4 linked regions of the Homo sapiens genome follow. The protein of the gene in region 3 purifies or fractionates together with the protein of the main gene of each other region. This does not show direct contact. Each region holds a gene or a part of one and is shown on either strand. Other genes may lie near its edges. The genes, in order: TYSND1, ACOX1, PEX5 and LONP2.

Region 1 (7,721 bases), on a different chromosome or scaffold from region 3:
CAGTGGGCTTTAAAATTTCCATTTGCAGAATTTGGTCTCTCAGGCTGTTTGGGAGCTCTTTTTTTTACATTTTTTCTCCTTTGACACCTATTTTATTGGTGTTTAAAGTAAAGGTTAACATCTGTAGCTTTTCCAGGTTTTTTTTTTTTTTTTTTTTTTTTTGGTATGAAATTGTCTTTCTCCATTGCAGAAATAAGCTAGGGAAACACTAACCCAAAAACTTTCTGTAGAGCTGTTCCTTTGGAGGCAGCATCACTTATTGGCAGTAAAGACTCAGTATAAAAGCACCGGCATCCCTACTTGGGTGATGGGGATTAATTTTATAGCATTCCATTTTCCTAGTGCCACATGTGAAATTGGATTTTGATGATCTTAATCTATATTCTACCCTTATAATAAAAGATCAAAAGATATATCTCCTATGAACAGATTGGAGATAGGAGATGAAAAGTTGGGAGGATGTCTTTATTCTAATGTGAGGGTAGGGAAAATGTGGATAACATTACTGGGGTGAGGGAGGCATTGTTCTTTAGTTGGAGTTCTCATTCTTATTCTCCAGTACTGACTTGTGGGGAAAGCATACTTTTTCACTGCCAGGTACTGAATGCAGAGGCTCAGTGAAGTATATATGTGGGAAGTGCATGCATTTCGTTTATTAGCAAACATAGCTGGATTAAGACAAAGTTGTTGGTTTGGAAAGGGGTTAAAGCCTTAAGTGAACAAATCTAGCTAACAGTGAATGAACTAGGTAATATAACTTGCATATTTTTAATTTCCTTTGGTTAAAGGTCCCCCATACTTCTCTGTTCGGAGACATGAGAAGTATGATTACTTCAGTGTTAGTTTTCTTAATTTTTTTTTTCCCCTATTTGTCCCTTGTCACTTTGTTGCAAGCTAGAAATCTGTGGGTTATACATAGGGCAGCTCTTTGTGAAAGTGGTTTATTCCACTGGAGAAAGGGGATTGAAAATCAGTTAGAACCAATGTATTTCTTGCCCCACGGAACACTATTCCTATAAGATAGCTGAAAGAAGCTGCTGTGAGGAGCTCAGCTCCAAACACAGGATCAGCACCTTGTATAGGAATTCCCATGAATTATGACTTCTCATTCTGTTTTATCAGAGTGCATATATGTCCTACTTCAGGAAAAGTAAAACAGTCATTTACGAAAGAAAGTCAATCTGTATCCTAAGCATTTTAATAAAAAGTTAAAACAAATACGCTATTTCCTTTTTTTTTTTTCATTGGTTTGTTCTGAGCTCTGAGTTTGAACAATGCCGTTTATTTGGGGAGGCAACCAAAAGTTCCCTGCATAGAGGAAGAGACATTTAGGGTGCGTGTGAGATACTTGAATTTTGCCACCAGGAGGGGGAAAAAGGCTGGGGTACTAGAAGTAATAGATTTAGTACTACTTGAGAGATTTGGAACATGCTGTGGACCCAGGGTTGTTGGTCATCTCTGCAACAGGATGGGGATGGCAGATGTTTGAGCAAAATCTATATTAACATGCTAGCAAGGACTAGTTCTAGTTTAGCTGTGTTTCACTCATTTTACACAGAATTAGAATTGGCCAGGTGTGGTGGCTCACGCTGTAATCCTAGCACTTTGGGAGGCTGAGGTGGGTGGATTGTCTGAGCTCAGGAGTTTGAGACCAGCCTGGGGAACAGGGTGAAACCCCATCACTACTAAAATACAAAAAAATTAGCTGGGCATTGTGGTACATGGAGTAGCTCCCAGCTACTCTGGAGGCTGAGGCGGAGAATCGCTTGAACTAGGAGGTGGAGATTGAAGTGAGCCGAGATCATGCCACTGTACTCCTGCCTGGGTGACAGAGCAAGACTCTCTCTAGCTCAAAAAAAAAAAAAAAAAAAAAATCAATTAAATGCTACATTTGGCAAAATGAGAAAGAAAGAATTTCCTTTACTAGGCTTGTAGGAAGACTGCTTTTACAAAAACCCAAATGAGATCATAAAACTAAAGTACTGGGACAAACAGTGGGAAACAGTGCAATGGGTTCTTTTCAACCAAGTATTAAAGTATTGGAGATATTGCCGGGCGCGGTGGCTCACGTCTGTAATCCTAGCGCTTTGGGAGGCCAAGGCGGGCGGGTCATGAGGTCAGGAGTTCAAGGCCAGCCTGACCAACATGGCAGAGCTCCGTCTCTACTAAAAATACAAAAATTAGCCAGGCACGGTGGGACGCACCTTTAATCCCAGCTACTCAGGAGGCTGAAGCAGGAGAATCGCTTGAATCGGGGAAGCGGAGGTTGCAGTGAGCCGAGATCGCGCCACTGCACTCCAGCCTGGGTGACTCCCATCTCAAAAAAAATAAAAAGTACTGGAGGTGTCCTGTTGTCCTTGTTACTGTGAAAGGATGCCATGGGTTGTATGGGCAAATGAGTTGTTTTGTTTGAGGCAGAGTGGAAAATAAGATTAGGCTCAGTCCATGAGCCTAGCACTCAACAGATCTTACTTTGGCGTTCTGGCTGTGACTTGGGACTTCTTTTTACCATGGTCTGCTGTAAACACAGAAAAACCCAATGCCTAACAGTTCATGCTGGAGTCTTGAGCGTTGAGGGAGAATCACTGGACTCGAGAGAGAAAGTTTGTTTGTTTGTTTGTTTGTTTGTTTTTTGAGTTGGTCTCACTCTGTCGCCCAGGCTGGAGTGCAGTGGTATGAACATAGGTCACTGCAGCCTTGACCTCCTGGGCTTAAGTGATCCTCCCATCTCAGCCTCCCAAGTAGCTTGGGACCACAGGGTTGCACCACCGTGCTCAGCTAGTTTTCAAAATTTTTGTAGAGTTAAGGTCTCATCATGTTGCCCAGGCTGGTCTCAAACTCCTGGGCTCAGGAAATTCTCCTACCTCAGCCTCCCAACGTGCTGGGATTCCAAGTGTGAGCCCCTGTGCTCCACCAAGAGAAAAACTCTTTGATTGCTAGGAAGTTGGGATAAAGAAATTGTGCTGTGATCAAGCCACCTTCTGTGTCATAGAACCAAAAGAAGACCGCCTGCTATGGCAAGATGGCCTAATTTTATTCCTGCCTCATACTATCATGGATAATCGTTTTCCTTTCTCTAGCAGGTTTGTGTCACTGGGAGTACTGGGAGCATTATCCTGTGTTGTGCTGGGGTTATACCAAGCAGTGTTAACTTTATTTAAAGAATTCAGGCAGAAAGATTAGAGAATTTAAGTAGCAATTGTATATGGTAAGCAATACAGTAACCTTAATAAAAATTAATGATGGCCGGGTACGGTGGCTCACGCCTGTAATCCCAGCACTTTGGGAGGCCGAGGCGGGCGGATCACAAGGTCAGGAGATCGAGACCATCCTGGCTAACACGGTGAAACCCCGTCTCTACTAAAAATACAAAAAATTAGCTGGGCGTGGTGGCAGGCGCCTGTAGTCCCAGCGACTGGGGAGGCTGAGGCAGGAGAATAGCGTGAACCCAGGAGGCGGAGTTTGCAGTGAGCGGAGATCGCACCATTGCACTCCAGCCTGGGCGACAGAGCGAGACTCCGTCTCAAAAAAATAAATAAATAAATAAAAAATAATGTGTATTTTATCAATTCAGTGATAAAGCAGACCTTTGTAAACTGTCTAGCTTGTGGTGACTGATTGAGGGTATCATGAAGCTCCGCGCCCCCCCACTCCCCGACATACTCGTTCATCCTCCTCTGTCCTAAAGCGTACTTCTTTGGAAAAGTAGAGCAGTTTATGTTAGTGTACACTAGAGATGGTAAACTATGCCTTGTGGGTCAAATCGGGCCTGCTGCCTGTGTTTGTATGGCCTGTGAGCAAAGAAAGGTTTTTACATATTTAAATGGTTGGAAAAAATATTTAAAGAATGCTATTTTTGGACACAAAAAATTGTATGAAATTAAAATTTCAATGTCTGTATCTTTTTATTGGGACACAGCCACCGCCATTCCTTTAGCTTTTGTATGCAACAGCTGCAGAGTTGACTATTTGAGACAAGTTGTATGGTCCCCCCAAACTGGAACTGTTTCCATTCTGGCCTTCTACAGAAAGTATTTGGACCCTGGCCTAGATAAATCCTGGCTGGTGGTTATGTTATGTGAAATGTGCACACTGTAAAATATAGGCCTGTATGATTAAAATTTTTGATTTCAGCTACTGTTCATAGTCGATTTAAAGGGCAATTTAATTTACAGCAAATCCAGTTTCTCGGAGATTTGTGTTGGGGCTTTGGCAGCAAAAAAAAATCCTAGGAGTAATCTTGAGAGTTCCATGCCCCCTAGTGGATTGCTATAGGGTTTACTTTTAAATTTTCAAAACACTGAATTGGCCAAGGATTTCCTTGGTCCATATTATCCCAAGGGTCAGAGGCTGAAGGTCGCCTAGACCTGGGCAGATGCTCACAGGTACTGTCGTGGCCTGGGCAAATCTAGGCACGTCAGCGCTCATTTCTATTCCCTTTCCCACATTCCAGCAAACGAGACTAGGCTTGAAGGGACCCACCCTCCTCTCCTCTGATTCCTCGTGACGCCGCACTCCTCTTACTCTCCCCGGGGCTCATCCGGGGGAATGGGGCAGATTATGTCCCACCGGTTGGACAAACTAACGAGGGCGGGGAAAGGAAAAAAAAAATCAGAATAGGAAGCCAATCAGAGCTCGGTACAAGCCCAGCCAATCGGGTCGGGTCAATTGGGGCTTAGCCAATCGGGCTCGATGAGGAAGACGTGAGTCAGAGCTTGCGCCTCTCGCTTCCAGCTGTGGGTGGCGCTAGGCAGCTTCAGCCGGACCGGGTAGGGGTCCTCGCTCGCTAGCTTGCTGTTTCTCGGAGAAGCTCCCGAGTGTCCGGCCTAGAGGCCATGAGAAGGCAGTGGGGGTCTGCCATGAGGGCGGCCGAGCAGGCGGGCTGCATGGTGAGCGCCTCCCGGGCCGGACAGCCCGAGGCGGGCCCGTGGAGCTGCAGCGGGGTAATCCTGAGCCGTAGCCCGGGCCTGGTGCTTTGCCACGGGGGCATCTTCGTCCCCTTCCTGCGAGCTGGCAGCGAAGTCCTGACCGCGGCCGGCGCCGTCTTCCTGCCTGGCGACAGTTGCAGGGACGACCTGCGCCTGCACGTGCAGTGGGCCCCAACGGCCGCGGGTCCCGGGGGCGGCGCGGAGCGGGGCCGCCCAGGGCTGTGCACGCCCCAGTGCGCGAGCCTCGAGCCCGGCCCACCTGCCCCGTCCCGCGGGCGTCCCCTGCAGCCCCGGCTTCCTGCTGAGCTGCTGCTGCTGCTGAGCTGCCCGGCCTTCTGGGCCCACTTCGCGCGCCTCTTCGGGGACGAGGCAGCGGAACAGTGGCGCTTCTCGAGCGCGGCGCGGGATGACGAAGTGTCGGAGGACGAGGAGGCGGATCAACTGAGAGCGCTGGGCTGGTTTGCGCTGCTGGGCGTGCGGCTAGGCCAGGAGGAGGTGGAGGAGGAGCGCGGGCCAGCCATGGCGGTGTCGCCTCTCGGGGCCGTGCCCAAGGGTGCGCCATTGCTGGTCTGCGGCTCCCCTTTCGGCGCCTTCTGCCCCGACATCTTTCTCAACACGCTGAGCTGCGGGGTGCTCAGCAACGTGGCCGGCCCACTGCTGCTTACCGACGCACGCTGCCTGCCCGGCACCGAGGGCGGCGGCGTGTTCACCGCGCGGCCCGCGGGGGCGCTGGTGGCGCTGGTGGTGGCGCCGCTCTGTTGGAAGGCCGGCGAATGGGTGGGCTTCACGCTGCTCTGCGCCGCCGCCCCCCTTTTCCGCGCCGCCCGCGACGCGCTTCACCGCCTGCCGCACAGCACCGCTGCCCTGGCCGCCCTTCTGCCGCCAGAGGTGGGCGTCCCGTGGGGTCTGCCCCTCCGAGACTCCGGGCCCCTGTGGGCAGCCGCGGCAGTGTTGGTGGAGTGCGGCACCGTATGGGGCTCCGGAGTGGCTGTGGCACCCCGCCTTGTAGTGACCTGTCGGCACGTGTCCCCTCGGGAAGCAGCCAGGGTCCTGGTGCGCTCCACCACCCCCAAGTAAGCCCGCAGGGCTGACGCCACTTCATCCCTTTCCAGGTCTCAGATCTGGGTCCAGCCCTAATACTCTTGAGTATTGTGCAGGCCTTTCTTGTGTCACGCGGATGCTTTGGGCGTGTAGTGGGTAGAGACCTGGAACCCTCCCCTCATCCTTTATACCCAGAACCCCTGTGGGGAGAATCTGGGGCAAGGTGTCAAGCTCGAAGCAGCTCTGGATTTGGGTACTGTGGGACACCCTGAATCCGGAACAGGGCATCTTTGAGCTCCCCTCAAAGGCTGAGTTTCTTCTGGGCAGCTTCACTGTCTGATAGCCCTGCACGCCATACCCCTCGGTTCTCTGGCCCTTTGAACAGAGATTCCCTAACCCTGCTGCTTCTCCTCTGAAAGTGATAAGGTCCCAGAGGCCCAGGATGGTGCTCTCCTGGGGTAAGGAGATGGGTATGTTAATTTTATCCATCTTTTAGTGCTTAGCCAGAGCTTCCCGTCTGAGTGAAACGTGAGTTTCTACGTAATCAGAAGGTAGGGGGGTGGCCCACGCAGCTGTACATGGTTCAGCCCAGCCTTGCAGCCCAGGCTTTTCCAAATCTCTTCCTGAATCCCCAAGCTTAGCCAGGTGTGGGTAACACTGCCCAGTTTTGCCATAGGTGTCCCCACTGTGGCCTATAGGACAGCCATGACTTTATAGGGAAGACTGATGATGAAGGTTTGCCTATGGTGTGTGGCCCCCACCAGATTCCTTCCACTCCCCCCACATGCCCCTTGCTCCTAAGGAGACTGCCAGGTCTGTTGGAAGCTACCCCTGCAGAGTGTGTAGTAGGACGCCCCTGTCTGATCCCGGGCAAGTCACTTAACCTGTCTAAGCTGCCTCCCCGGGAGTTGACGCTGAATGTCGTGGAACGGAGCCTGTCACGTCGTGTGCTACAGAAGTGTTAGCGTGTACGTAAATAGGGACCCAGAGGAGTGAAACCATGTCATATCTGACCCACCAACTGACGGGATTGTTGTGGGTATCAACGAGGCAGTGAAGGAAAGTGTTGTGTTTGCCTTGGCTCCTCCCACTTTGTTTGGTGTTGGGAATGTTACTGAGCGTCTCTGGGCCTCAGTTATACCACCTAAAATGGAGATAATGCCAGTGCCTAGTTTATAGGGTCGTGAAGACTAAATAAAGTGATGTCCACAAAACACTAACACCAAACCTGGCCCACAGTGCTCACTAAGTGTCAGGTTGATTATTCAGGTACAGGAAGCTTTAGAGAAGTAGCACAGTTTGTCAACCACCTTTGGAGATACCACAGAATGGTTACATGACTTGCCCAGAGTTGCCTGCTGGTCGATTCAGGGCTGATACCCAGATCTTCTGACTTTTACTGTCACTCTCAGCTCCTTGATTTCTCCCAAGTACTGAGGAGTCAGAAAGCTAGCCTGTCATTTGTTTCCCTTGCTCCCAGGAGTGTGGCCATCTGGGGCCGTGTGGTATTTGCCACTCAGGAGACATGTCCCTATGACATAGCAGTGGTGAGCCTGGAGGAGGACCTGGATGATGTCCCCATCCCTGTGCCCGCTGAGCACTTCCATGAAGGTAAAGGACGAAGGGCGCAGCCTGAAGGAGGGCCCCTCTGAGCTAGGGTGGGCCTCAGGAAGGAGAATCAGTGTTGGGCATTCTCATGAAGTCAGGGTAGCATTGGTCAAGGTCCTTGGAGGCCTGCCTCCCTTTTTGTGC
Region 2 (7,393 bases), on a different chromosome or scaffold from region 3:
CTTAAAAACTGATCTCCTTGTCATATCCTAAGGACATTGGAAGTGTGTCAAAGGGTGTGTTAAAGTTTGTACTTTAATACTTCACATGAAAAATGATACACAAAACAACTTCCCGGTGTCCATGAATCTTTAACCCGCATAAAAGACTTTGTTCTATTTCATTGTGACCTCACTCGAGTCTGGTTCACATTATCAACAGGTCACAGGTTATGAAATCATCTCTATCAGCTTTGAAATGCACTGCACCACCCATTCAAACACACACACACACACTCAACCCACTTTTTTCCTGACGTTTCAAGAAGGAATAAAATCTTACTAATTTTTTCAAATTTACAAACACAACACAGGTATCAGTAACATAATCTTCTAGGAGGAGTTACTCTATCTCAATATCCCCACAGCCATGAGTTACAAACTTCAAAAACAAAACAGACCATTTGGAAGTATGCTGATTTGAACTACCAAAAATAAATAAACAAAATTTTTTCGTTTAAAACTGAGTGGAGCTCTGAGGAAAGTCCAAAGTGCCAGAGTAAACCATTTCATCTTCACAAAAATAACCCAAGTCAAGCTGAAAATCGATACCAAAGGCACTAGAGGCAGTGACCATTATTACCATAAAGGCAGAACGTGCAACATGTTCTATTTAGCTTGGTTCTAGTCTATACACCACTCATACGATTTAGTCTTTACCGATGAAAATACTGGAGTTCCTTTAAAATGGAGAAACCTAAAAGAGAAAATGCCCAGGAATAAATGAGAAAAAAATGCTATAGGCCAAAATAATCTTGTACTAGGATCATGTAATAGTGTTTGTTTAGGTTAAGGCAAAAAAGTCTTTTTTTTTTTTTTTTTTTTTTTTGAGACAGAGTCTCTCTTTGTTGCCCAGTCTGGAGTGCAGTGGCGTGATCTCGGCTCAGTGCAGCCTTTGCCTCCCAGGTTCAAGGGATTCTCCTGCCTCAGCCTCCTGAATAGCTGGGACCCCAGAAGCGCACCACCAGGCCCGGCTAATTTTTGTATTTTTAGTAGAGAGAGTTTCACCATTTTGGCCAGGCTGGTCTCGAGCTCCTGGCCTCAAGTGATCCACCTGCCTTGGCTTCCCAAAGTGCTGAGATTACAGGCATGAGCCACTGTGCCCGGCCCGAAGTCCTTATTTTTATTTATTTTTACCGTTCCTTGTGGAGCAGGGTGGATCACGAGGTGAGGAGTTTGAGACCAGCCTGGCAACATGGCGAAACCCCATCTCTACTAAAAATACAAAAATTAGCCGGGTGTGGTGGCGGGCGCCTGTAATCCCAGCTACTCAGGAGGCTGAAGCAGGAGAATCGCTTGAATCCGGGAGGTGGAGGCTGGAGTGAGCCGAGATCGTGCCACTGCACTGCAGCCTGGGCGACAGAGCGAGACTCCGTCTCAAAAAACAAAAACAAAAACAAAAAACACAACAAAACACATGGTCTGAAAAAAGGATATACTCTCTTCCACACTAGAACCAAGGCAGGTTTTTATGACGTCTCTCTCATATGCACAAGACAACCATTCAAGCACTGTCATGGATTCAGAACTACTGGGTTCTTAGACTTTCTATTCATTCAGAGGCGTCACAGATCATTCTTCATCCAGGTCCACACTACCATATAATATAATCTGCTATTGCTCCAAAATATTTAAATGGTCGTGCAACTAAAAAAAAAAATGCTCCCAGATTCAGAATTTTAGCAGTCCTCCTTACAAAGAGCAAAATGATTCTGCATTTAAATCAGTCAAATTTGAGTTGCTTGGGCAGAACAATGCTTTTACAACATCCTTGAAACTGTACTCTTGAGAACAAAAACTCCTGCATTTCCATTTATTATCAGCATTCTACAAACACGTCATCCCACGAAAAGGCTTGGATACAAAAGTGATCACATTATTTTTCACACATATAACTTTATTTATTTATTTATTTATTTATTTTTTGAGATGGAGTCTCGCACTCTTGCCCAGGCTGGAGTGCAGTGGCGCGATCTCGGCTCACTGCAAGCTCCGCCTCCCTAGTTCACGCTATTCTCCTGCCTCAGCCTCCCGAGTAGCTGGAACTACAGGCGCCCGCCACCACGCCCGGCTAATTTTTGTATTTTCAGTAGAGATGGGGTTTCACCGTGTTAGCCAGAATGGTCTCGATCTCCTGACTTGGTGATCCGCCCGCCTCGGCCTCCCAAAGTGCTGGGATTACAGGCGTGAGCCACCGCGCCCGGCCACACATATAACTTTATAAAGTTGCATGAAAATATGCCAGTTTGCATCTTCAAACACCAAGCACGGTGATGAAAGGCCACCATAGACCGCAGCTGTAAAGTTTAGGCTTAACAACACTTGCTCTGTTCTAAGGCATACCTACTTTTTAAACCACATAATTTCATCAGGGTCAGCGATGCCAAACTCCCTCATCTTCTTCACCATGATGGCACTTTTCCTGACAGCCACCTCATAACGCTGGCTGCGAGTGAGGAAGTTCAAGTCCTCATGCTGGAAGTCTGGGTCGTTCAGGATCATGTTCTCTGAAAGGGGGTTAAAGGGCATTAAAAGGCAGACAGACACTCGGGCCTCCGTTCCACCCTCCCTGAATCACAATAGGCTTCAGAGTCGCGGACACACCTGGGGAATGGCGATATCCCCCCACCAGGGACACAGGCTGTTCCTCGAAGTGGGGGTCCCGGCTCCCCTAACGCTGGGCCAGAGGGCCTAGGCCCCACAGCGCCCCTGACTCCGCATCGAGGGAGTCTCCAGCTTTTCTCGGGAAAGGAGGGAGGTCTCGCCCGCCGCCCTCACCGATCTCTCGGCGGCGCCGGGTTTTCTCGGGGCTGCCGTCCAGGATGTGTGTAAGCAGCTCCGGGTTGAAGCTGGCGGAATCCCGCTCCCTGCGCAGGTCCGGGTTCATGGCGACGACCAGCTGGCAGCGAAGTAAGCACCGACCGAGGTGGCAGTGACAATCTAAATCCGCAGCTCCAGCGCCGGCCGGACCCTAGGAGGCAGCCTCAGGACGGCGCAAGTCCCCGCCTCCGCTCGCCCGGCCCGCCCCGGCCCGCCCCTTCTTTCTCCGTGGCCCTTTGGCGCGTGAGTGACAGCGGCCCAGACAGAGGGGGCGATGTCCGCGTCGTGGCTGGGGCCGGTCGCGGGGCAGACTAATCCCCTGCTCCTGGCCAGGGGAGGCTCCCGAGCGGATCCTCGGGAAAGGGGCTCCGAAGGTCAAGAAACTGCCCTGCTGGGCGTCCGGGGAGTGGGAAAATAAAGCACTTTTTGTATCCCGCCCCTCCCCCGTCACGTGACCACGCGAGGCGGAAAGAAGAAATCCGAGGACCGGCGACGCCTAGAACAGGTTGGCTGGGGCCTTGGGAAGGGGGCGGGACAACGAGGCTGAGGAGGGATTGCGCCTGCACTTGCCCCCCTCTTACCCCGCGGCCTCTGTCACGCTTCCGGGTCCGTGCCCCTAGGCCTCTCCGAAATGAGAGTGGTCGGGAGACTCTGGAGTCTGGGGCGGGAGATGGGGCTTTGCGGAATTGCTAGGGAGGGTCACTTGGGCTTTTGCCAAATCCACCCGGATTGGAGAAGAATGGGACGGGAACCAGTCTCTTTGGGGAGAGGCTCCAGTTACCTTTTGTTAAGATAATGGCGTCTTTACTGGCAGAGGCGTGGGTTCCGGGGCCCTGGGTGTGGGATTGTGAGCGCTGTTCAAGGGGTGGACGGGGACTTAGAATGAGACCAAGCGGGCGGTGCTGCTCTAAGCCTTCTGTCTGGGAAACCAGACATTTTCCCCCGCAACCTGGCAGTTACTAGAGGTCTTGGAATCCAGACTTCTTTGCTTTCGCCATCACCGTCATCAAAGTGGGAAATGCACACTTACTGTTAAAACCTAGTGTAGGGCCGGGCGCGGTGGCTCACGCCTGGAATCCCAGCACTTTGGGAGGACGAGGCGGGCGTATCACTTGAGCCCAGGAGTTCAAGACCAGCCTGGGCAACATGGCAAAACCCCATCCCTACAAAAAATACCAAAAAATTAGCTGGGTGTAGTGGCATGCGCCTGTAGTCCCAGCTACTCTGAAGGCTGAGATGGGATGGTGGCTTGAGCCCCGGAGGTGGAGGTTGCGGTGAGCCAAGATTGTGACATTGCACTCCATCCTGGGCAACATAGTGAGACCCTGTCTCTACAGAAAAAAAACAAAAAACAAAAACAGTTCTGCCCAGTGGGATTGTAGACAAGGGAGATTCAGGGATTTGTTGAATCATCTCTAGTCATTTTTTTTTTTTTTCTTGAGACGGAGTCTCGCTCTGTCGCCCAGGCTGCAGTGTGGTGGTATGATCTCAGCTCATTGCAACCTCCACCCCCTGGGTTCAAGCGATTCTCCTATCTCAGCCTCCCGAGTAGCTGGGATTATAGGGGCTCGCCACCACACCCAGCTAATTGTATTTTTAGTAGAGACAGGATTTTGCCATGTTGGCCAGGCTGGTCTCGAATTCCTGACCTGTTGATCCACCTGCCTCGGCCTCCCAAAGCGCCGGGATTACAGGCGTGAGCCGCTGCGCCTAGCCTGTCTGTAGTCTGTGTAATACTATGACTTTGGTTTTCTCAGAAGTAAAACTACGAGAGATGCATAACATTCATAATTTGAATAATAGAACTATAATACACACTCTTAACCCCTAGGACCTCAGGATCCTCATTTGTCTTATTAAGCTGCTGATCTCAGGCCCCTTCAACAGCAGAGAGGGTGTCTAGTTTATTCTCTGTACCTGGCACAGTGCCTGCCCCGCTAAAGGTGCTCAGGAAATCTTTGTGGAGTGAACAAATGGCTGCTTGACAGCTGACCTTCTAGTTCTAATATTCTAGGAAACCAATTGCTCTTAATGTAACAATGATAAGGGGTGTACTTAGCATTGAATAGAAAAGACTTAGATGAAGAGCTAAATTTGCTGAGTTTTTATTTTGAAATAATTTCAAATTTACACGAGAATTACAAGAATAGAACAAAGAACTTTTCTTCTGTGACTTTAACGCTTTTTTTTTTTCTTTTGAGATGATGTCTTCCTCTGTCACCCAGGCTGGAGTGCAGTTGCATGATTTCAGCTCACTGCAACCTCCGCCTCCTGGGTTCAAATGATTCTCATGCCTCAGCCTCCAGAGTAGCTGGGACTACAGGAATGTACTACCACACTTGGCTAATTTTTGTGTCTTTATTAGAGGCAGGGTTTCACTATGTTGACCAGGCTGGTCTCCAACTCCTGGCCTCATGTGATCCGCTCGCCTCAGCCTTCCAAAGTGCTGAGATTACAGGCGTGAGCCACTGCGCCTGGCTGGCTGACATTAACACTTTTGAAGTGTATAAGCCCATTGTTTTGTAGTGTTGGGTCTCAGAAAACAATACCCCAAAATGAAGGCCTCAGAAGCAACCCACAAAGCAAGTTGTTTTTTTTTTTTTTTTTACCTTCTGTCCTCCTCTCCCTCAGGTGCATTCTCCCCCGAGCCTAGCCAGAGAAGTTAGAATCCTCTTCCCCAAGGCAGGTCATAGAAAACAGAGTCATTTACCCCCAAAGCCAGCCATAAAACCCTAAATATAAGCTGGGTGCGGTGGCTCACGCCTATAATCCTGGCACTTTGGGAGGCCAAGGCAGGTGGATAGCGAGGTCAGGAGATCGAGACCATCCTGGCTAACACGGTGAAACCCCGTCTCTACTAAAAATACAAAAAAAGCCGAGCGAGGTGCCATGTGCCTGTAGTCCCGGCTACTCGGGAGTCTGAGGCAGGAGAATCGCTTGAACCGGGGAGGCAGAGGTTGCAGTGAGCCGAGATTGCACCACTGCATTCCAGCCTGGGCGACAGAGTGAGACTCTGTCTCAAAAAACAAACAAAAAAAACCCTAAATATATTACTCTTAACTTTCCCTCCTTCTTTTGGTGTAAAAACTGGCCAAAAAGAAATTATCTGACCTAGCTTGTTTGACTGTAGGCCATAAGACTCCATTCCAGAGAGGGTCCTCCCCCACACCCAGAAGGAAGGAATGCCTGTTCCAAGAGGCCAAGAAGAATCTAGACAGACAGGCCTTGCTGGGCCTCCCCACTCAGTCTATCAGCATTAGATCATACCTTTTATGTTCAATCATTTGCATAAAAATGTACAATTTCCCCTGTATCTTTGGGTCTTCCTTCTGAAGGCTCCCATATGTACATGTTACATAAATTTGTACACATTTTTGACTATTACTCTGCCTTTTGTAAGTTGATTTTTTGCAGCGAAACTTCAGAGGGCCCCTTGGCACCTACAGTAGAATGTCCCTTAATTCAGATTTGTCTGATATTTCTTCATGATTAGATTCAGATGATGCATTTTTGGCAGGAATACCACACAAGTGATTAATAGGAGAAAAGGCATACACATGTATTTGATCATAGTTTTGCTTTGTTTTGTTTTGTTTGAGACAAGGCCTTGCTCTGTCACCCAGACTAGAATGCAGTGGCGCAACCATAGTTCACTGCAGCCTCAAACTCTTAGGCTCAAGCATTGATCATAGTTTTATTTATTTATTTATTTATTATTTTTTCAGGCAGAGTCTCACTCTGTCGCCCAGGCTGGAGTGCAGTGGCATGATCTCGGCTCACTGCAGCCTCCGCCTCCCGGGTTCAAGCAATTCTGCTGCCTTAGCCTTCCCTGTAGCTGGGATTACAGGCACCCGCCATCATGCCTGGCTAATTTTTGTATTTTTAGTAGAGACGGGGTGTCACCACATTGGCCAGGCTAGTCTCGAACTCCTGACCTCAAGTGATCTGCCCGCCTTGGCTCAAAAAAAAAAAAAAGAAAGAAAAAAGGAAGAGGCCCGGTGAGGTGTCTCACGCCTGTAGTCCCAACACTCTGGGAGGCCGAGGTGGGTGGATCACCTGAGGTCAGAAGTTCATGACCAGCCTGGCCAACATGGTGAAACCCCGTCTCTACTAAAAATACAAAAATTAGCCGGGCATGGTGGCACACGCCTGTATTCCCAGCTACTCAGGAGGCTGAGGCAGGAAAATCGCTTGAACCCGGGAGGCAGTGGTTACAGTGAGCCGAGATCCCGCCACTGCACTCCAGCCTGGCAGACAGAGCGAGACTCCATCTCAAAAAAGAAAGAAAGAAAGAAAGAAAAATGTATAATCATTATACCAGCAAATTCCTCCCTCGGTGAGAATTGCATAGCAACCCCAGCATCCTCCCCACCTCTTTTTCCCCAGATCCACCAGAAAAACAGGAACATCTAGTGGGGACACTCCTTTAGTCCCCTCATGTTAGTGAGCACACACTCGTGTACACTAGCCCTTCATAATTGTTATCTCCCCCTGTTTTAGACAACCAGTGTTTTCATAGCCTATGCCACCTCTATAA
Region 3 (7,024 bases):
GTTCCTGAATTTTTCTGAGATGATTAAAGGGACTGAATTGGTTTCTACCCCCACCATTTTAATTTATGTTCTTTCTTCGTTTGCTACAGATTTCAAGGTCTCAAGTCTAATTTTCCTTGAGAGCATCCATTGCTCCTCGCATCCTTTAGGATTGATTCTTCTTACCCGAAGCCTATCTGATCAGGGACAAATGTGTGTGAAGGAGGCCCATGTTTAGGATGGGCTTCTCCGCACACAAGAGAAAAATCCCAAATCTAAAAACTAAAACTCACCTTTAATAAGATCTGTGGGTCTCTTTTATCACGTGTCTCTTTCCCACCCATAAGTTGGAGTTAAGGTAGAACAGTAGGTGCTCTTGGCTTTAAGAGTGCTAATCACTTTATCTTCTTAAGCTCATTAGAACTTCACAGTAACAGTAACACAAGGTGGATATCCCACCCCCATTTTATAGATGAGGAGACTGAGATTTGGAAAAGTTAAATACTTTGTGCAAAATCATTGAATAATAGAGATGATATTCAAACTCATGTCTGTGTGGCTCTTGAGATTCTTTTTTTTTTTTTTTTTTTGAGACAGGGTCTTGCTCTCACCCAGGGTGGAGTGCAGCGGTGCAATCTGTACGCACTGCAACCTCTGCCTCCTGGCTTCAAGGGATTCTCCCGTTTCAGCCTCCTGAGTAGCTGGGACTACAGGCGTGTGCCACCATGCCCGGCTAATTTTGGTATTTTTAGTAGAGACAGGGTTTCACCATGTTGGCCAGGCTGGTCTTGAACTCCTGACCTTAAGTAATCCACCACAGCCTCCCAAAGTGCTGGGATTACAAGCGTGAGCCACCGCACGCGCCCTCACGTTGAGATTCTTTGTGAAATTGCCGCAAGTTAAAATCTGAACCATAGCAAAGACCCTCTCCAAGACAGAAACTCAGTTTTTCACATAAACCTTAGACTTAAGTGCTATCTCTTATCACAGAGAGGCTTCTGTTGTAATGTGGGCATTAGTCATTTTTGATAATTCAGAAAAATCATTGCTACTATGAGCGTTGAGATGGATGAAATTTTTGCTGTAATTACCTGAATTGCATGCAGCCATTGAAATCTTCCTTAACTTGAAATGAAAAAGAACTTTAGAAAAACATGTTTTATCTGTCTCACCAGTTAAATGCTCTTAGTAGAGCTCTTCTAGTATTTTGTAGATTCTTTTGGAATCGTGCCTGTTTCACAGAGGCAGAGACATGCAAACCTTAGAATGGGAGTTGAGCTGTTTGAAGTCTGCCTTCATAAAAATGTCTTATTGCAGCAGTATATTGCTTTGCATGTAGTAGGCCTCTGGTATTGAATGAATGAATTGAGATCTGGGAGAAAAAGCTAAAGGAAAGGAGTTCATTTTGTCGTAACTGACTTTTTTTTATTATCCTTCATTTTTAATTACAGCATTTGTGGTTGATACAATTGTATGGGTTAGCTATGGCTTTATAGATAAGTAGATTTTGAGATGAAAGAAGGTTATACTTTTTAAGTTCTTATTTTAAAATCTCCACTGTTAAGAGTCAAAATCAAGTTTAAAAAGAATGTTGCAGCTCAATTATTTAAATTTAAATTTTTTATTTGGAAGTACTTAGTTTCACTGGAAGTTGAAAAAAAAAATGTATAGGAAGGTTCTGTATACCCTTCACCCAGTCTCCTCCAGTGGTAACATTTTACATAGCAGTTATGCAGAGATCAAAAATCAAGAAGTTGCCCTTGTTTCAATCCTCAGAGTTTATTAGGTTTCACCAGTTTTACATGCCCTTATTTGTGTGTGTGTGTTTTTTGCAATTTTATTAAATGTGTAGATTTGTGTAAGCACCATCATGATCAAGATACAGAACTATTCTCTCACCACATGAAGTTCATTTTTTTAGCTTACCTTATTTTGTAATGGAATCCCCCCGTCTTAAATCTTCTGGGTCAAATAATTCTCCATCTTGTGTTTGCTCAGATCTAGAGATAAAACACATCTTCAGGGTTCTTAAATTTAGACAGCTTCGGTTGACATGGTATGTGAGGTTCATATGATAATCGTGAGAGATAAACCTGCACTTTCATGGGAAAAGCCATGGATAGCAGTAGCAGAAGATAATTGGCAACAGATCTTTTCTGGATGTTGGAGGAGAGGCTTTGGAATAACAGTCTCATTGTGATGTTTTCTGCTTTTGTTATAGGTTTGCCATGAGCAGACTAATGATAATAACTAACATTTGTTACTGTATTCATTGGTTTTCACCGCAGCCCCTACTGTTATCTCTGCTTTAAAGATAAGGACATGGAAACTTAAGAAGGTTGAGTAACTAGTCTGAAGATGCACAGTGAATAAGTGATGGAGTTAGGATTTAAATGTGGGTAGACTGACCCTACAACTTGTATTCTTCTCCACAGTGCTGCTATTTAGCAGACACAGAAACTTTCATGAGTAAGAGTAGCAAGTTCTGAGTTTTTGACTTTTGAGCTTGGGGAAGATGTGCCTAGAAGGAATGAGTAAACAACGAGAAATTATATGAGGTGCACATTTTGAGTGGGGTATTTGGTGTCTAGGTTATTCTCACTCTACTAATCTGTATGACCTCAGGCAGTGCATCCCCTCTGTAGACCTTAGTTGCCTTGATCTCAGATGTATCCACATGGATCTGATTTTCTGTAGGAATTTCTCAAAGATTGTGAAGGCAGTGTGTTACTCTTTTGATTCTTTCGGTTATTTGACTCTTGTTGGAGTAGGTTCCCAATGCCAAGAAATTCTGGGTCTTGTGGCGATTTAATCTGGCCAACTACCAAATTATAGGTATTTGAGGATAGTTTTTCTCAGCTCTGGGATTTTTTTTCTTAAACTGCCTCATATCTATTGTTAAGTCCTCATGTCTGTTGTAAAAATTCAAAGGTGCTTTGTGTTTTTTCTGTTTTTTTTTTTTTGTCCTTGAGAGGACCATTTCATAGGAATTTGAAATGTTTTCTGTGAATTTGAGGAGCACTTATGGCCAGAATATGCTTTTGCAAAATACTCTAGTTGAGAGTTAGAAGTGTTTGGAGAGTTGAGGAGGTAGTAGTTATTTTTCAACAGAATGGAGCTAAGAATTTCAACTAAGAATGGAACTAAGGAACTAGGAGATCTTAAAGTCTCTTTGAGTATTAAGCATCTCCTTTCCGTCTCCACACTTGAGGCAACAGTCTAATTGGGGCAAATGGAAGAGAAATGCTTCCTGTAAGAGCTAGTGAGCAGAATCTGTATTTAATTTTTGAGAGTCCTTGAAATTAACAGATGGATCTATGGTCAAAAAAAATTGCCAACCATATTTCTTATTACATTATACATTATATATTATATATATTATATATACATTTTACATTATATATAATGTATATATAATGTATTTCTTATGTTATAACGTATTTCTTATTACATTATGTTATATATAATGTATTTCTTATTACATATGTTACATATAATGTATTTATTACATTATATATTATATATAATGTAATATATGTTATGTAATAATTATATATGTCATATATAATTTAATTATATGTCATATTTAATTATATATGTCATAATTTATATATGTCATATATAATTTAATTATATGTCATATATAATTTAATTATATATGTCATAATTTATATATGTCATATATAATTTAATTATATATGACATATATAATGTAATAATTATGTGTCATACATATATGTGTCATATATAATGTAATAATTATATGTGCCATATATAATGTAATAATTATGTGTCATATATAATGTAATAATTACATCATATATAATGTAATAATTATATATGTCACATATAATGTAATAATTATATATGTCACATATAATGTAATAATTATATATGTCACATATAATGTAATAATTATATATGTCACATAATGTAATAATTATATATGTCACATATAATGTAATAATTATATATGTCACATATAATGTAATAATTATATATGTCACATATAATGTAATAATTATATATGTCACATATAATGTAATAATTATATATGTCACATATAATGTAATAATTATATATGTCACATATAATGTAATAATTATATATGTCACATATAATGTAATAATTATATATGTCACATAATGTAATAATTATATATGTCACATATAATGTAATAATTATATATGTCACATATAATGTAATAATTATATATGTCACATATAATGTAATAATTATATATGTCACATATAATGTAATAATTATATGTCACATATAATGTAATAATTATATGTCACATATAATGTAATAATTATATATGTCACATATAATGTAATAATTATATATGTCACATATAATGTAATTATATATGTCACATATAATGTAATTATATATGTCACATATAATGTAATTATATATGTCACATATAATGTAATTATATATGTCATATAATGTAATAATATATGTCATATATAATGTAATAATTATATATGTCATATATAATGTAATTATATATGTCATATATAATGTAATTATATATGTCATATATAATGTAATTATATATGTCATATGTAATAATTATATGTCATATGTAATAATTATATATGTCATATATAATGTAATAATTATATATGTCATATATAATGTAATCATATGTCATATACAATGTAATAATTATATATGTCATATACAATGTAATAATTATATATGTCATATACAATGTAATAATTATATATATGTCATATACAATGTAATTATATGTCATATACAATGTAATTATGTTATATATAATGTAATAATTATATATGTTATATATAATATAATAATTATATATGTTATATATAATGTAATAATTATATGTTATATATAATGTAATTATATATGTTATATATAATATAATAAGTAGTAATTACTTATTATTTATAATTAGGTGTATTCTGAGAGTCTTGATCTTTGTTTTTCACATTTTGACATTTCATGCTCAGATTTTGAGACTACTTTGTTGACATTATTCAGGCAAAGTTTCAGTTAAAATGGAGTAGAAGTTTTTGTACTTTAATACCGAAGGGGTAGTAAAAGCAAGGGTGGTCAGATCTTGAAACTGGGGACAAAGACTGCTAGTATCAGCTAATATTTTCACACCCCTGCCCAAATGTCCCTCTTTAATGCAAATTGGAGTTAGTAGGTTCTCAACAAGAGAGTGGAGTTCCCCCTTGGGAACTGTCCTTGTCATGGGCCAGGAGTGGGGAATAGCAGGGGAAGGTGGTGGCAGACTAACTAGTAAGATTAGTTCTGGACACAGGGCAGAAGGAAAGAACACCGTAGGCTTGTGCCTTCTCTTTGTTTCCTTGTGTTCTTTAGTGCCCGCAGTCAGTCTCCTTGTTTTTTTTTTCTGGCCACAGGATAGTAAAGGGCAAAGTCCTGGAGGATGAAAAACAGTTCAGCACCCTCATTGAGTTTGTTGCCTTGATAGGTTAATTCTGATGTTGCAGCAGTCCCCTTTGTCACTAGAGCTTCTGAGACAGTTTCTAAAATTAGACTGAAAAAACATAGCTACTCAAAGATAATCAAAAGTGAGAAAAGTCAGAATAGTGTTTACTTCTGGGGGCTGGGAGACTGAGGGAGCCTGTGAGGGAACTGTAAACGTTCTGTATCTTGATCCGGGTGGTGGTTATGTGAGTGTATCAAATGTGGAAGTTAATTTAGCTGTACACTTAAGTTTGGTAGACATTATATGGTTTCATATTTGTATATTACATTTCAATTAAAAAATGAAAAAACCCACCAAACATCCATAGGGAAGAGCAGACCTATGTGTCTTTAATTCTAGCCTAGCATTCCACTTCTCTGATTCTCTTGGTAGGCAAATTACAATGAAATAAGGCTCCTTTGGCCGGGATTGTGTGAACTCTGGGTAGAGGGAGAACAGACCAGTGCCTTGGTTAAGGAACAGGAGCCCTTCTGTGCTCCCTTCACTCCTTACTGGCTCCCTGCTGTACTTCTGAGGAAAGTGAAAGCCCTTCCGCTTCCTATTTCTTATTGAAATATCTTGCACTTCAAGAAAAAGAGTTTGGTTCTTAATCCTTTCCTGAGATTCCTTATTTGATCTCCCGTTCCCAACTCTCAGTAAATTTCTGCCCCAGGCTCCTTGAGAATGGGTTGGATATTGAGGATGTTGAAAATTTAGTACTATATTCTTTTGACCAGGGGTTTCTGAGGGAGTCAGCAGAGTTTTGTCTGCTTTGGTGTGGCTAAGAGGGTCAGTTGAATATGGGCATCTCTTTCCCTTTCCTTGATCCCACACTGAATGAACCTGTGTGATTTCCCCACTTCTCTGCTCCTTGCAGACCCCTTGTCTGTGTCCCCTGCCCGCTGGGCTGAGGAATATTTGGAGCAATCAGAGGAGAAGCTGTGGCTGGGAGAACCTGAGGGAACAGCCACCGATCGCTGGTGAGTTCAGATACCTCTTTCCGAATCCCGTGAAAGGAGTATGGACAGTTTTCCCAGCCTCCTCCATCCACGTTCTCGAACCAACTTACTTTATTCTTTTTTTTTTTTTTTTTTATCATTCTTGGGTGTTTCTTGCAGAGGGGGATTTGGCAGGGTCATAGGACAATAGTGGAGGGAAGGTCAGCACATAAGCAAGTGAACAAAGGTCTCTGGTTTTCCTAGGCAGAGGACCCTGCGGCCTTCCGCAGTGTTTGTGTCCCTGGGTACTTGAGATTAGGGAGTGGTGATGACTCTTAAAGAGCATGCTGCCTTCAAGCATCTGTTTAACAAAGCACATCTTGCACCGCCCTTAATCCATTTAACCCTGAGTGAACACAGCACATGTTTCAGAGAGCACAGGGTTGGGGGTAAGGTCATAGATCAACAGGATCCCAAGGCAGAAGAATTTTTCTTAGTACAGAACAAAATGAAAAGTCTCCCATGTCTACTTCTTTCTACACAGACACAGCAACCATCGGATTTCTCAATCTTTTCCCCACCTTTCCCCCTTTTCTATTCCACAAAACCGCCATTGTCATCATGGCCCGTTCTCAAT
Region 4 (7,024 bases), on a different chromosome or scaffold from region 3:
ACTCAATGTGAAGCTGTTTTACATTCAGTAGAGCTAGAACTAGGGTGTCAGTGAGGTGATAACTAGAGTTGACGCAAGACAGATAGGCCCAAGACAAGTTGCAAACGGTCTTAATGTTATACTAAGAAATTTGGTGTCCATCCTATAGCCATTAAAGTCTTTTACTCAAGGGAATGGGATGCCCCAGACTTCTTTTAGAAAGGCTCAGTGAAGAGAAAAGGTTCAAGACAGAAGAACTAGGAGACAGGATGCTATTGAAGAAGTTCATTGAAGAGATGCAGAAGTAGAAGTAGATGCAGAAGGGGATGAAAGAGAATAATTGGAAATAACTTTAATGTCTAAAAAGAGAAATTATAAAATTAGTATACATTAACTCAATGAAATTAACAAAAGTACTTAATATGAACATCAGACATGGATACAAAAACAAAACATATAATTGAATATGAACTGAGCCCAGAAGACGAACAAAAATTAAATTTGATGCATGATGACAGTAAGATGTGTGGTGATCTATTTATTTCTAAAAATTCCTTTAATGTCACTGCAAAATCTTTACAAGTTTAAAAAGTTCCTCTAGATTCAAAGTACAAAGAAGTAAAAGCAAAGCAAAAGAGGCTATGAAGCTATCTATGTCCAATAGAGGCACAAAGACCCAGGGAACATCACTGCTGAAAAGAAAAAGAAATTCTATTTCTCTCAATCTCCTTTATTCCTAAGCAGTATATTCACTTATTCCAGTTTTCAAACTGAAATTTCTTTCCTCAAAGTGCTTTCTTTCAGCCCATATAGAAATTACAGATTCAAATTTTCTATTTTTCTTTTTTTTTTTTTGAGTCAGGGTCTCGCTCTGTTGCCCAGGCTGGAATGCAGTGATGCAATCTTGGCTCACTGCAACTTCCACCTACTAGGTTCAAGTAATCCTCCCACCTCAGCCTCCCCAGTAGCTGGGACTACAGGCACGCACCATCACACTCGGCTAATTTTTGTACATTTTGTAGAGACGGGATCTCACCATGCTGCCTAGGCTGATCTCGAACTACTGGGCTCAAGCAATCCACCCACCTCAGCCTCCCAAAGTGCTGGGATTACAGGTGTGCACCAGCGCACCTGGCCCTCAAATTTACTATTTTTCTGTTATTGTTCATTACACTGTAAGTATGGCTCTTCAAATGCCACATCAGATACAAATACCACTGGCTATGAACACTTGCCCCACACATATTTCAATGATCAGTAGTATTTATAATTGTGACTTTTAAACATTATCTGATCCTCATAGATCTAGTTATAGTCACTGGATTAAACTAATAGAAAAGTAGAAGACTATACTTTATAATTTTATGTTTCATTAAGGTTTGAAACAAAATGGGGTGGGAATAGGAGCTTTCTGTTCTATCTAGAGTTAACCAAAAAGAACTAGAATTAAAGAGTCAAATATTTAATGCATATCTAAAATGTGCTTCCTTCCCAGCATTCTAGTTAATCAAGGTTTTAACCATACTTGAAATCAGCCCACCACAGGCTTGATCTACCATAGTTACTGCTAGACAATGTGATCTTGACTTTTGAAGTAATATATTGTAATTTATATAAATGGTGCCTAGATATTTTAGTGACAGACAGCTTCTGTGCAGTATTTCGTTTTTTAGCTTTAAATATTTAGGTTTAATAATTATCTAGTTTAGAGACAGTAGAAGTTAGAAGGAAAGCTGTAGAAATAACATTTGGAAAACTTTAGAAAGGGTAGGCCAATATGTCCTGGAATGATTTAGGTACAACCCCAGATAAGAGTAAATCAGAATTAATATATAATGTTACTAACTCATTTAAATGTATACTGTCCTAAAACTTCACTATCCAACAGATTCACCATATCTTAGGAAAGCAAAAGAACCAAAGAAAAATGGGTTTTAAGAAAAAATAAAAGCAACTTACTTGTACTGCATATTTGTAAAACTGCTCTGATAGTTCTCCTAGCTCCTCCCTCATTTTACAGGTGTTGGGAAACTCCTCAAGTCGGTCCAACTGCTCCACTTCAGCAATGGGATATGGCTTCTCTTTTAAGACCTGTACAATCTGGAAACGGCATAGGCCTGTAATCAACAGAGTGTAGTGGGGCTTGGGCCAGTTACTGCCCACAACCTGAACGGCCAGTGCAGCTGTGCCAATCCTGAAAAACACACAAAACATCGGTATTACAAACATTCAATACGGTAGAACAGAAACTCACTTCAGAAAGTGTTGGCTTTTCTGATACATTCATTAAGCAAAAGACATCTGAAGTGTAAATAAATTTTTTCTCTATTTAACTTAGCATCCAGTATGTGGCCTCTTCTGCCACTACCCTCAGCTATATGGCAAAGCAGACCATCTCACTATAATCTGCACCTCTTTTAAAAAATTAGGTAGGAATTTGTAAACACTTGGATTATTCAAGCGTAAAAATGTAAGAGAAAAGCAGCTGAGAATTACATATCTTAAATTAACATTGTCAACTAAGAATAAGGCAATCTTATACCAGGATAAATATTATCAATTTAAATACATTTAAATATAAATAGCATAAACCAATCTAAGAAATCTCCGTTCCAACACCAGTTGTGCTACTAACATCAAGTCAGTTTTCTTACATAATCAGTCTATGAAACTTCCACATACCCACCTTATCACAAGCTGCCATCACATACTGGGAACTTATATATATGCCCTTAACACTGAATTTCTAAGTGTGAGGGCTAAATATTACAGTCCACACACTGCCATAGACTGAGGAGAGCTAAAGAAAGACCCACATCTCAAAAGGTCTCAACCTAGTTCTAAGTGGTAATCATTTTACCTAACAATAGGTGAAAAGGCTTCAAGTCTCAGCTCCTCATCAGCAAATACAACTCTGATCAAGTCACATATAAATTTAATTCACAGAAAGGAAGCCTCATCCAAACTAAGTCAGTTATATAAAATACAAAAATCAACATTGAGAAGACAATTCCAGATCCCAAAATAAATAATATTTTCTCCCTTCAGCCATAGGAAAAGTGGTAATTCCAGAAAAGAAAATAGAAGGACTAGAACTCTCAACACCCTAGGAAAGCGGTAATAGAAGAACACCACACCTGCCCATCTCAAAGATAATAAATCATGTAATACAGTATGTGACTATGTGAGTGAACTTGCTTACTTCTATACACAGTGAATTCTTGATTACTTCCTTATAAATTACTCATTCCGTAGATTACACATAGCCTTTGGCTTCTTTCTGCCACTCAGTTTATTCTGAACTACGTCTATCCTTTTCTTACCTTTCAGTCATTACCATGTTTACAATAAAAACTGATTTAAATAATAAGCCAAACAACTGAGAAGATAAATTGGTGAGGGAAAAAAATCACATACATAAAAAACTTGAAATTATTTAGCAATTAGCTATTATTTTGACTTATTTGTGTTGTGGCTGCTTTTCTTCAATCAATAGTAGATAATATTTCCCACTTCCTGAAAGCCCACTCAGATTGCCTGAGGAAGTGAGCCACCTCTAAACTGATTAGAGAATAACTTAAACATAATTAATTGCAGATGATATTCATCACTGTTTGTACAATGCTGAAAGAGCTCACAGTCCTGTTTGTATATAAAACATCCACAGACAAGAAACTGGATCCCCGGCCTAAAGGGTTTACAAAGTAGAAACCAAGGAGGAACCAGAAAGAGAGATGAGACAAATCCAAATCTCCGATCAGGAGACAAATTTAATTATTTGGGCTATGTCATTGCTAAAAGGTGATGCTAAAGAGTTGTTTTTTGTTTTTTGTTTTTTTTTTTTGAGACGGAGTCTCACTTTGTCACCAGGCTGGAGCGCAGTAGCCTAATCTTGGCTCACTGCAACCTCCGTCTCCCAGATTCAAGTGATTCTCCTGCCTCAGCCTCCCAAGTAGCTGGGACTACAGGCACACACCACCACGCCCAGCTAATTTTTTGTATTTTTTGTAGAGATGAGGTTTCACCATGTTGGCCAGGATGATCTCGATCTCTTGACCTCATGATTCGCCCACCTTGGCCTCCCAAAGTGCTGGGATTACAGGTGTGAGCCACTGTGGTTTTTTTGTTTGTTTTTTAGAGGGAGTCTCACCCTGTCGCCCAGCCTGACGTACAATGGCGTGATCTCGGCTTATTGCACTCTGCCTCCTGGGTTCAAGGGATTCTCGTGCCTCAGCCTCCCAACTAGCTGGGATTACAGGCACACACCACCACGCCCAGCTAATTTTTGTATTTTTAGTAGAGACAGGGTTTCACTATGTTGGCCAGGCTGGTCTCGAACTCCTGACCTAAGGTAATCCACCCACCTCAGCCTCCCAAAGTGCTAGGATTACGGGCGTGAGCCACCACACCTGGCCAAAAGGGGTTTTCTTATAAAGCAAATACAATATTTTTGCTGTGAAAGGAAGATGTTCCAAACTGAAGAGATTAAGCTGAATTTATACTATGCCTACAAAAGGTACAGATGTATACATGCCTTAATTGCTTTTTACTTAAAATCACTTATAGTTGACTAGAAATTATCCCTTTAAAAAAATTTTTTTTTCTTTTTTTAACAGAGATGGGATCTCATGATGTTGACCAGGCTGATCTCCAACTACTGGCCTCAAGCAATCCTCCCATCTTGGCCTCCCAAAGTGCTAGGATTACAGGCAAGACCCACCTCGCCCAGCCTAGAATACATCCCTTTTAAAGAAAAACATCTATGAAATTATAGATGGCTAGAAACAGAGTACCTGGTGAGACACTGTGGGTGAAAAGCATAGTGAAAAAGAATCTATTGTATATTGGGCCCCAGGTTTTATATATACAAACAGGTAAATAAACAAAATACTCAACTAATATTTTCCTTCTATGATATACAAAAGGTTGTATATCAAGTCAGTCATTTTTCTAAAAATTCTGGCTCTTCTATTGTATGTGCATTATTAGGCATGCTCAAAAGGCAGCATTTTAATTTTGCAACAGATCCAAACTTATACATCCCAATGACTGGTGTCCTTCCCTTTAGCTAGTAGCTCTGTAAATCTACATCCTAATTATGATATTGTTCAAAGAAGTTTTGAAACTCCTAACTCGAATCTACCCTCAGAGGTTTTAAGATAATGTTTTAATCCAAATCCTAACTCGAATCTACCCTCAGAGTTTGTAAAATATTGTTTTCATTCAAGTGAGGTCTGACTACAATGGTTACAATTTGTGTAATTTGGAAACTGACCTAAATAATATAAGAGTTCCAAACATATTTAAGAACCATCAACTGCAGTAGTGGGAAAATCTAAAAGCAGCACTACTGGAAAAAGTTTTCCAAGATGAGGATATTATGTAAATATCTAATTCCAGCCTATATGCCCAGCACTTGCTTTTTTTTTTTTTTTTTTTCCTATAGACAGAATCTTGCTCTGTCACCCAGGCTGGAGTGCAGTGGTACGATTATAGCTCACTGCAGCTTCGATCACCTGGGCTCAAGTAATCCTCCGCCTCAGCATCATGAGTAGATGGGAGTACAGGCACGTGCCACCAGGCCCAGCCACTTTTAAAAAATTTTTTTACTCAAAGCCCTTAATTTTTCTTGGAATCTTTAATCTTCCAAGACCTTCCTGCAATGATGTTAGTTCAGTTCAGCCCGTGTTGGAATAATATGGGGCCTCCCCACTCCTCTCTTTAATCCCCTTTTGTGAAAATCTACATTTAAAACTACCCATTTGGATATAGGTTTAGAATGCTTTGCAGTTTCAAAAGGCTTTCATATGTATACTTCATTTTATACCTCCCTTCACCCCATGAAGAAGGTAGTATTATTTCCTTATTACAAGTGAGTAAATGAGATTCAAAAAGGTAGAACATGGCATGGTGGCTCACACCTATAATCCCAGCACTTTGGGAGGCCGAGGCAAGTGGATCACTTGGGCTCAGGAGTTCGAAACCAGTTTGCGCAACATGGCAAAACCCCGTCTCCACCAAAAAAAAAAAAAAAAAATAGCTAGGCATTGTGGCACATGCCTGTAATCCCAGACACTCAGGAGGCTGAGGTGAGAGGATCACTTGAACCTGGGAGGCAAAGGTTGCAGTGAGCTGAGATGGCACCACTGCACCAGCATGGGTGACAGAGTGAGACCCTGTCTCAAAAAAATTAAAGTAGAACAACTTAGGTGTACATGGTTACAAGAAAATGTAATAGAAATAAATTTAAGAAATAAATTTAAATTTAAAATTTAAAGGATAAATTTAAATTTAATAAATTGAGTTCCTTAATTATATTTTAAGACAAATTTTACTTTTTTCTCATTACAATGGACAATAGGTACCACTTCTACCTACAAGAATTATAAACATAGGCCAGGCATGGTGGCTCACGCCTGTAATCCTAACACTTTGGGAGACAGAGGCAGGAGGATCACTTGAGCTCACAAGTTTGACACCAGCCTGGTGAGGGAGACTGAGAAGTCGGCACTATGAGGAAATGAAGCCATGTACCCTGAAAAGTGTAAATTTGGAAGAAAGCTGGATGACCATCTTGAAATGCTTGAAAGGATATTGTACAGGTAGTACTAAATTATGACCCCTTTTCACTAAGAAAACAATGGGTCACTCAGGAAGCACTAAAAATGCAGTTCTACTAAGCAGAAAAATGCAGGGTGCCCTGGGTCAGCATGCCAGCCAAGTTCTATACTGCAGGACAAGTCCAAAGCTCCTCCTTTAAAAAGGCTCCTGCAGGCAACATGCCTGCACACTAACGTGCAGAAAGGGACTGTACTACTCAAAACCACCAAGGAAGTGGCAGAGGTAAGTCAACATCTAATCCTGCCACTCTGTGTGGCAAAGAACGCTGGGAGCAAATTACTTCTGCTGCTCTTTGAAGGCTGTGCCAGCGTCACCTGGATAGCGCAAAGGAAACAAGAGAAAGGAACAGAGCCCCTCTTCTGGCCTCTGGGCTACCATACAGAAAAGCAGGTAACTGGGGAAGGACAGACTTGTGCGTGGAAAC

What was found.
Region 1: the proteins of PEX5 (region 3) and TYSND1 purify together in Homo sapiens (affinity purification with mass spectrometry, with the first as the bait; 2 studies listed by BioGRID). This does not show direct contact.
Region 2: the proteins of PEX5 (region 3) and ACOX1 purify together in Homo sapiens (affinity purification with mass spectrometry; 3 studies listed by BioGRID, with this or other methods). This does not show direct contact.
Region 4: the proteins of PEX5 (region 3) and LONP2 purify together in Homo sapiens (affinity purification with mass spectrometry, with the first as the bait; 2 studies listed by BioGRID). This does not show direct contact.

The regions. Positions count from the first base shown.
Region 1 is NC_000010.11:70,143,701-70,151,421, reverse strand, and holds the start of TYSND1 (peroxisomal leader peptide-processing protease), read left to right. Parts: upstream 1-4,721; 5' UTR 4,722-4,835; coding exon 4,836-6,001; intron 6,002-6,693; exon of another isoform or gene 6,694-6,937; intron 6,938-7,449; coding exon 7,450-7,580; intron 7,581-7,721. UniProt on the Homo sapiens protein: Peroxisomal protease that mediates both the removal of the leader peptide from proteins containing a PTS2 target sequence and processes several PTS1-containing proteins.
Region 2 is NC_000017.11:75,976,151-75,983,543, forward strand, and holds the start of ACOX1 (peroxisomal acyl-coenzyme A oxidase 1), read right to left. Parts: upstream 3,017-7,393; 5' UTR 2,924-3,016; coding exon 2,815-2,923; exon of another isoform or gene 2,641-2,814; intron 2,544-2,640; coding exon 2,384-2,543; intron 1-2,383. UniProt on the Homo sapiens protein: Involved in the initial and rate-limiting step of peroxisomal beta-oxidation of straight-chain saturated and unsaturated very-long-chain fatty acids.
Region 3 is NC_000012.12:7,192,685-7,199,708, forward strand, and holds part of PEX5 (peroxisomal biogenesis factor 5), read left to right. Parts: intron 1-6,326; coding exon 6,327-6,429; intron 6,430-7,024.
Region 4 is NC_000016.10:48,247,280-48,254,303, reverse strand, and holds part of LONP2 (lon protease homolog 2, peroxisomal), read right to left. Parts: intron 6,991-7,024; exon of another isoform or gene 6,765-6,990; intron 2,174-6,764; coding exon 1,939-2,173; intron 1-1,938. UniProt on the Homo sapiens protein: ATP-dependent serine protease that mediates the selective degradation of misfolded and unassembled polypeptides in the peroxisomal matrix.